2 linked regions of the Homo sapiens genome follow. The protein of the gene in region 1 purifies or fractionates together with the protein of each later gene. This does not show direct contact. Each region holds a gene or a part of one and is shown on either strand. Other genes may lie near its edges.

Region 1 (4,561 bases):
AAAACCTTAATTTTAAAAACTATCCTAAAGGCTTGATGTTATGTAGAGACATCAGTGAAAACCACTATCCCTCTCTCAACCCAGTATTGGGTTTGGATCCTAGAAAATGCCAAAAATAGACAAAAATGTTTCCAGTTCTTTTTTTCTGACCTAGATAATGTAAAACCAAAGATTCATTCCTGGAAAAGTGCTAGGGTATTTTTGGGGATTTAAAATCAAGCTCAGTTAATGTGGTCTATAGGGCAGTCACTAAGATTGGTCCATGCTAAAACATGTCTTTGTCAACAATTGTAGGGCCAACACACATACTTTCAATACTCTTTCTTGGCGAGAAGTATAGGAACTATGAGTAATCAGAAATAGAAGAGCAAAAGGAAAAGTGAAAAGATGAGAAGAGTCCATGAGAAAAGAGAGGCAAATTACAGGGAAGGAGAAAATCGAGGTTTTTGAATGGGAAATACAGTGGACATGAGAGGATCTGAGAAACAGACATATTTCCTGTCAGTAGAGGCCGAAGGTAAACAAGGATGTCGTGTAACAGAAAGAAATGGGAAGGCCAAGTTAAAGAAAAGAATGAGAGAAGGCTTGGAACTAAAACAGGTAAAGAGATAATGACAGTGAAAACTATCTCAGGCATGTCAACAGGACTGATAAGGAACAGTGAGGGACATCCAGGATCTCACATCAAAGACAGAAGGGTCAACATGTGGAGAGAGAAAAAGGAAGAGGGATCCCAGCTGTTAGGGGGAAAAGGTGCTGTTAAAGACAGCTCTAGTCTGCATTTTGAACCTTACATTCTGAAAGGAAGCACTTCACCAAGCCAATACAAAACACTGTACAAATCTCTGCTGTTCACAAATTTTAGAGTAAATAAAAGCAAACTAATGCTACACATCAAATACCTTAACTGGCGAGACATAATTCCTAGTTCATTTTAGCCGCCGGGGGCAAGAAGCTATCAAAGTGATTTTTTTTTTCCAGCACCTTAATGTGAGACAAGTATGAAGGAAAGACAAGTATGAAAGAAAAAGTCCCAAACCAATATTGCCCAGTAGTAATTTTCAGAGTGATTTCTCTTTTCAGTATAGACTTGGATGTATTCGGACCCCTTGGAGGGGGCGCCGGAGAAGCGGCCCAGAAAGTATTTCTATATTAAGAAAAATTTAGTTTGGATGCAAAGTGAGTTTTGCGGACCTCAATACAGCCTCGAGAAATCTGAAGTACTCCTCTACAGCGTTAATAAAGAAAGATAACTCAGATTGCCTGTTAACTTGCAGCTTCTCCTCCTCCCCCATCGGCTTCAGCCTGAACTCATCAAAGCACCGGAGGACAGGAACGGACCTTCTATCGCTTTTGTTTCCTGCGTGGCGGAGACTTAGAGGAACGGCCGGTCGCCTACCTGCCTTCCACTTCCCCGGCCGCAGAGCAGTTCGCTGCCGGCTCGGTTCGCCGCCAACCTCACCTACCGGCTGGCTCTCCGGCCTGACTCTTCTGGGATGGGTGGCAGGGGGTGGGGGAGACCTCAGGGGGCGGAGGGACACGAGGAGGCGGGCCTGACCCTTCCCCCAGAGGCAGGGAGGAGGTGCCGCCAGGGCGCAGGTGAAACCGACTCGGCCCTATCCCGGGAACTTTCGCTGTGAGGACTCGTTGCGAGAGGCTAGAGTCGCGCAGGGGCGGCCTCGGAGCCGCCCTCTCTCACGCAGACTGCCGCGGGGACTCAGCCTTGGGGCCACCCGGAGGGGACCCACGGCCCTCCTGGCGCGCTCACGGGCTGCGGGCAGCGCTGGCCTCCGCGGCTGATGGGGGCGGCTAGTGCCGCCCCGGGCGCAGGTGACACTCGCCCGGCCAGGGTTTCCTCTGGCTGGGGAGAGCCCCGGGAGGGCGAGACTCAGACACCTCTGGGGCGGAGGACAAGGCAGCGATGGCCCGAGAGCTGAGCCAGGAGGCACTACTGGACTTTCTGTGCCAGGCTGGGGGCCGCGTGACCAACGCTGCCTTGCTGAGCCACTTCAAGAGCTTTCTCCGAGACCCCGACGCGTCCCCCAGCCAGCACCAGCACCGCCGCGAGCTCTTCAAGGGCTTCGTCAACTCGGTCGCCGCAGTGCGCCAGGACCCCGACGGCACCAAGTACGTGGTGCTCAAGAGGAGATACAGGGACCTTTTGGGGGAGGAGGGGCTGCAGCGACCCCGCGAGCCGCCCGCGGCCGCCCCCAGTGCAGGGGGAGCTGCGCCCTGCTCCCCGCGAGGCGCGCGCCGGGGGGAGCCGCCCCAGCAGCAGCCCAGGCGGCGGCGGCGCGAGAAGGAGCCGGAGGAGGAGCCAGCAGGTGCAGCAGCCAGAGCCGCCGACGCAGCTTGCAATGGACTCCCGGGCAGCGACTCCCGTAGGGCGCCCGGGAAGGGCGGCGGATCGAAGGGCAGTCCCGGACAGAGGCCGCCGGTGCCCGCAGCTGCAGCGGCAGGGGCCCAGGCGAGAGCGAGCTGCGCGGCGGCGAAGACGCAGGGCCGCTGCTGCTGGGAATGCCTCCAGAACAACCTGGCTGTACTGCCGGGAGAGCTCGGCGCACTCCCGCACTCGGCCACCGCGGAGGAGAAGCCGGCACGGGCTCTGCCTGCCCAGGATGACCGCGGGGCTTCCAGGGAGCGGGAAGAAGGCGCGCTAGCTGAGCCGGCGCCTGTGCCTGCAGTGGCTCACTCGCCTCCCGCCACCGTCGAGGCTGCGACAAGCAGGGCTTCCCCGCCTGCTCTCCTGCCCGGCCCCGCTCCCCGCGGAGACCGGCCGGAGCTGCTGACCCCCAGCTCCCTGCATTATTCGACCCTGCAGCAGCAGCAGCAGCGCACTCGAGAGTGGGTGGCCAGGCACCCGCAGGTGCCCGAGGCCCGTGATCAGGGCCCTATCCGCGCCTGGTCGGTGCTGCCAGACAACTTCCTCCAGCTGCCCTTGGAACCCGGCTCCACGGAGCCTAATTCAGAGCCGCCAGACCCCTGTCTTTCCTCGCACTCTCTCTTTCCTGTTGTTCCGGATGAGTCCTGGGAATCCTGGGCGGGGAACCCTTCATTGACTGTCTTTCGCAGCATTCGTTGTCAGCTGTCCCTCCAAGATCTGGATGACTTTGTGGACCAGGAGAGTGATGGCAGTGAGGAGAGCAGCAGTGGGCCCAAAGACTCCCCGGGGGCTTCTGAAGAGGGGCTGCAGGTTGTCTTGGGAACCCCAGATAGGGGGAAGCTCAGGAATCCAGCTGGGGGCCTTTCTGTATCTCGGAAGGAGGGCAGCCCCAGCCGGAGCCCTCAGGGTCTCAGAAACAGAGGGGATGGTCACATCTCTCAGCAGGTCCCTGCAGGGGCTAATGGCCTTGCAGGCCACCCCCTGAAGCCTTTGCCTTGGCCAGTTCCTAAGTTAAGGAGGTCCCTCAGGAGGAGCTCTCTGGCAGGGAGAGCCAAATTGTCCTCCTCTGATGAGGAGTACCTCGATGAGGGCTTGCTGAAAAGAAGTCGGCGCCCACCTCGATCCAGGAAGCCCTCCAAGGCAGGAACGGCACCCAGCCCAAGGGTTGATGCAGGTTTATCACTAAAACTTGCAGAGGTTAAGGCTGTTGTGGCCGAGCGGGGTTGGCGACACAGCCTGTGGGTCCCCAGTGGGGAGGGGTCTGCAGCCTTGGCCCCCCACAGAACTTCTGAGCACAAATCATCCCTGGTTCCACTAGATGCCAGGGAGCATGAGTGGATTGTGAAGCTTGCCAGTGGCTCCTGGATTCAGGTGTGGACTTTGTTCTGGGAGGACCCTCAACTGGCCTTGCACAAAGACTTTTTGACTGGGTACACTGCGTTGCACTGGATAGCCAAACATGGTGACCTCAGGGCCCTTCAGGACTTGGTGTCTGGAGCAAAGAAGGCAGGGATTGTCCTTGATGTAAACGTGAGGTCCAGTTGTGGATATACCCCGCTGCACCTTGCAGCCATTCACGGCCACCAGGGGGTCATCAAATTGCTAGTGCAAAGGTTGGCTTCTCGGGTAAATGTCAGGGACAGCAGTGGGAAGAAGCCATGGCAGTATCTAACCAGTAATACCTCTGGGGAAATATGGCAGCTGTTGGGAGCTCCTCGGGGCAAGCCCATTTTCCCTGTCTATCCCTTAGTTGGAAGTTCTTCCCCTACCAGAAAGGCCAAGAGCAAGGAAATATCTAGAAGTGTCACCCGAAAAACTTCCTTCGCTGCACTACTCAAAAGTCAGCACAACAAGTGGAAACTGGCCAACCAGTATGAGAAATTCCACAGTCCAAGGGAAAGAGAAGAGTATAGTGACTGAGGTGGGTCTCTCTGTCCAACATGCAGGCAGCACTCCCTCATCCTGCTCAGTGAGAGAATTCAGGGGGAATAGAAAAGCTGCTGAGAGTTGGTAAAGAGGATGGTCGAGTGAGATGGTGTTGACCTCCCTGGATCTTATGTCACTACATCCTGGACCTCAAGAGGGTCATCCAAGCTTTTTGAAAGCTGAACTCCTTGACTGGAGAAACCTAGACAAGAGGCGGGGCCAGGTGCTTGATATCTAGGAGGCATTCTTCCT
Region 2 (3,811 bases), on another chromosome or scaffold:
AAGCTCTGGCAGTAGCAACATGTTACTGAAGTGAAATCATGTTCTTTTCCAACCTGCTTTCAAAGAACACTGTAAATAACAGCATACATAATATATGCTAATTTATATAAATCAGCACATCTGGTTAAATGTTACTGGGTACCACTAGCACTACAGGGGTTATTGTTGAAGACCCAACTCCAGTCTACCATGCAGAAGAAACCGGTTCCTTCTGCTGGATTTGGGGTGTTTGATACATTTTTTTCCCCTCAAGACAGGAGAAACTATGATGATGTCCAGGTAACTTAAAATATAGTTATTAGCTTGATATCCAAGTGGGCATGTTGTGGAAGACACCCATTGTGGGATACAGCTCAAAACTGATGCATTTAAAGAAAGATTAAGATATATTTTCACATAGCTATTTATTGTGAATGTCAGTAATGGAGAGAAATTAACTCATACTGATTTAAAACTTATTTTCCTCATCAGGTTGAGTCTGTTTCCAAATAATATACTCTGGCTGTAGCTTAAACAGACAACTGAATTCTGGTATTTAACTGACTTTGTGTGAGGTTACCTGGCAGGGAAAGGTATTGGTCCCTTTCTCATGAAAGAATGTAGAAAACAAAATTCTTACTTATCACCATTTGCACAGTCTTTGGTTTACTGAAGATTTTACTGTATTGCTTTAAGGAGAGTAAGCTACATTGCTACAAATACATACCAGCATATTGGCCACCAGCTGTATACAGTGTGGCCTATGAATGAGTGAGAAGCTTCTAGGTAGCTATTAAGGCAGGCCTAGGTAGGAATCCAACACTTTATTAGGAAGGAATTATTCCGAAATGGCTGTTGACTCAATCACCTGGCAGTTCTGGCACTCACCCAAGGGAGAAGAGATTTTGGGTACAATCCTTTTTAAAAAATCTATTTGTTGTTCTGTGATATCATAGACATCCAGGCTTTAAAAAGAAAGATCTGCTCAAAATTAAGAGGAATTTTAACCTACCCTTAATTCGTTGGTCTGTTATTAAGCTAAAAGTAAAAGAAATAAACTTTTAAACTTCATAATATGAGCCAGTTAATGAGACTTTTTTACAAAACTTAAACAAATTTTCAAACGTGCTAAAAAGTAGAATAGTACAATGAACCACCACCATCTATCCATTGCCCAGATATAAGTTATCTACATTTTGCAACATTTGCTTGATCCATCCTTTATTTTTCCCTTGCTAAAGTATTTTAGTGCAAATCTCAGATATCTTGTCATTTTACTCCTACATACTGTCACGTCTTTAAAAATTAAAATTAACATATTCCTTGGTATCATCCAGCATTCATTCCATAATCAAATATTACCAATTGCCTAAAAAAATTAGATTTTTGATCTAAGGTGTACCTAATTGATATACATGTCACTGAACTCCTTAAACAAATACAGCTTTAAATTACTGGTAAAATCTTATTCAGAGTTACTCCACATAAAGTGCTATCATAAAGCCTCAGCCCAAATTAAGTTCACTTCTGTCTTTAATTCTGTAGAAGTATCTGGAAAGGTTGACTATACAAGGGTGGATAGACTCCTTGGAACAGCTGTTATGTACCATCAAAAATAGAACAAATTAGTTTTGGCTTTACTCACTGGTTGGGCAATCACTAATTCTTCATTTTGCAATTTGTGAAGTGGGGTGGGGCTTATGTGTAAGAATTTTCCTTTCAGGGAAATGCTGTAGATAGTTAGGCAAAGGAAAATTATTCTTCATTTCTCTAGATAAAGCGTTCATATGACTCTTTGACATTCACACCCCACCACAACAACTAAGTTTATGTTACTGGCTCTAGTTTTATTTCAAAACAAATGCCGGTTTGGTCTATCTTTGTTTTTCAGCCCCTTTGATATAGTCTAGGTTGCTGAATCTGGATAATTGGGTGAGTAAACCTTTACATAGAAGTTATTCTTATTGAGATGTTTGTGGGCTTACAATTGAAAATCAGACTACACTAATGAGGTGATGGAGCTGGGGATGGGTGGAGTAGGTAAATATGAGAAATCAACTTGGGCAAATGGCCTAGACTCCACACAGATTTGCTAAAGAAATTGTGTAACTATTACTTTCCAGACAGCAGTTTAGTGCTGTTATTGTGCTGAGAGGCAATAGGCAAATAATTTCACTAGCTGTAGACTCAAGTAGATTTAGGCTAGTAATCTGTCTCCACTCTGCAACTTCTAGACTGACCATTTACTAACCCAGTCAGTTGGGTAGTTTTCCTCAAAACAGATAGATGAGTGATAATTGTTGGAGCCAGAGAGCTGGCATTTTCTTCTTTTGTTTGGCCCGGGAGGGAAAACTATGGAGGTGGTGTTTTATGTGCTCTGAAATCAATCACTGATAAAGTCTTAAATGCTTAGTAGTCTATTGTGCTGGCTGAAACTGTTTACAAAGATTCTATATGTAGATAGGAAGACCTTGTATAGGCTGTACACTTGCATTGTGAGCTTTAATAATGTATACGTATAACAGAGACCAGGTCGGTATGTATGGGTGGGCCCTGACCAAGGGTGTGAGACCACAGAGGTCACACCACTTACCAAATCATGTGCCAGTTACAAGACTATGTCTTCCTGGGGCTGCGTTTTCTGATTCACACAGAGGCACCATATGGGCTAGCTAATACATTTAAAGCCAGATGGATTTTAGTCTCATACCTGATAAGAAATTCAGCAAGGATTCCGGGCATGGTGGCTCACGCCTGTAGTCCCAGGACTTTGGGAGGCTGAGGCGGGTGGATCACCTGAGGTCAGAAGTTTGAGACCAGCCTGGCCAACATGGTGAAACCCCATCTCTACTAAAAATACAAAAATTAGCTGTGCATGATGGGAGACGCCTGTAATCCCAGCTACTCGGGAGGCTGAGGCAGAAGAATTGCTTGAACCCAGAAGGCAGAGGTTGCAGTGAGCCAAGATTGCACCATTGTACTCTAGCATGGGCAACAAGAGTGAAACTTCATTTTGAGTAGGGATTTCTTATTTGTCATTGGTTCTGAGAAAAGAATGTAAGATGTATATTTATGTAATATCCTACACCTGATTACTTTTGCTTTTGAATTATTGAAATCTTCAAATGTAGATGGCTGTGCCCTTGAGGGCCTAGGTTATAGTTCAGTATGTTCATTATCTTCCCCAACTTAAGGGTTGAGTTCTGTTATAGCTAATTGTAGATCAATTAGCTTAAGGCTCCTCCCTTTCTGCACTCCTTTCAGCAATTTTCTTGACATAATTGTTTCACAGAGTTTTATATGGTTACGCATTATCTAGGCTGCATTTTTTTTTTTTTTAGATGGAGTCTCACTCTGTCACCCAGGCTGGAGTGCAGTGGCCTGATCTCTGCTTACTGCAACCTCCGCCTCCCGGGTTCAAGCGATTCTTCTGCCTCAGCCTCCCGAGTACCTGGGATTACAAGCATGCACCACCACGCCCAGCTAATTTTTGTATTTTTAGTAGAGATGGGGTTTCCCAATGTTTCCCAGGCTAGTCTCAAACTCCTGACCTCAAGTGATCCGCCCTCCTGGGCCTCCCAAAGTGCTGGGATTACAGGCATGAGCTACCGCGCCTGGCTGCATTGTTTTTTGAAGTTTGTACCATGCTTATTTCCACTTTCATTGCTCACGATACAGGGCAGAACATATAGAAAGTTAAGATGGGTTAAAACAAATTTGGCAGAAGCATTTCCTCTGATAATATGCTCTGCAATCTAGTACCTCACATTACAAAATCAACGTTTTTCAGAAGAGTCAGTGTGTACATAAAATATTTGTGAGTGAAAATAAA

The links.
Region 2: the proteins of SOWAHB (region 1) and DIAPH2 purify together in Homo sapiens (affinity purification with mass spectrometry; one large-scale study listed by BioGRID and IntAct). This does not show direct contact.

The regions. Positions count from the first base shown.
Region 1 is NC_000004.12:76,895,210-76,899,770, reverse strand, and holds the start of SOWAHB (ankyrin repeat domain-containing protein SOWAHB), read left to right. Parts: upstream 1-1,626; 5' UTR 1,627-1,921; coding exon 1,922-4,303; 3' UTR 4,304-4,561.
Region 2 is NC_000023.11:96,691,042-96,694,852, forward strand, and holds part of DIAPH2 (protein diaphanous homolog 2), read left to right. Parts: intron 1-3,811. UniProt on the Homo sapiens protein: Could be involved in oogenesis. Involved in the regulation of endosome dynamics.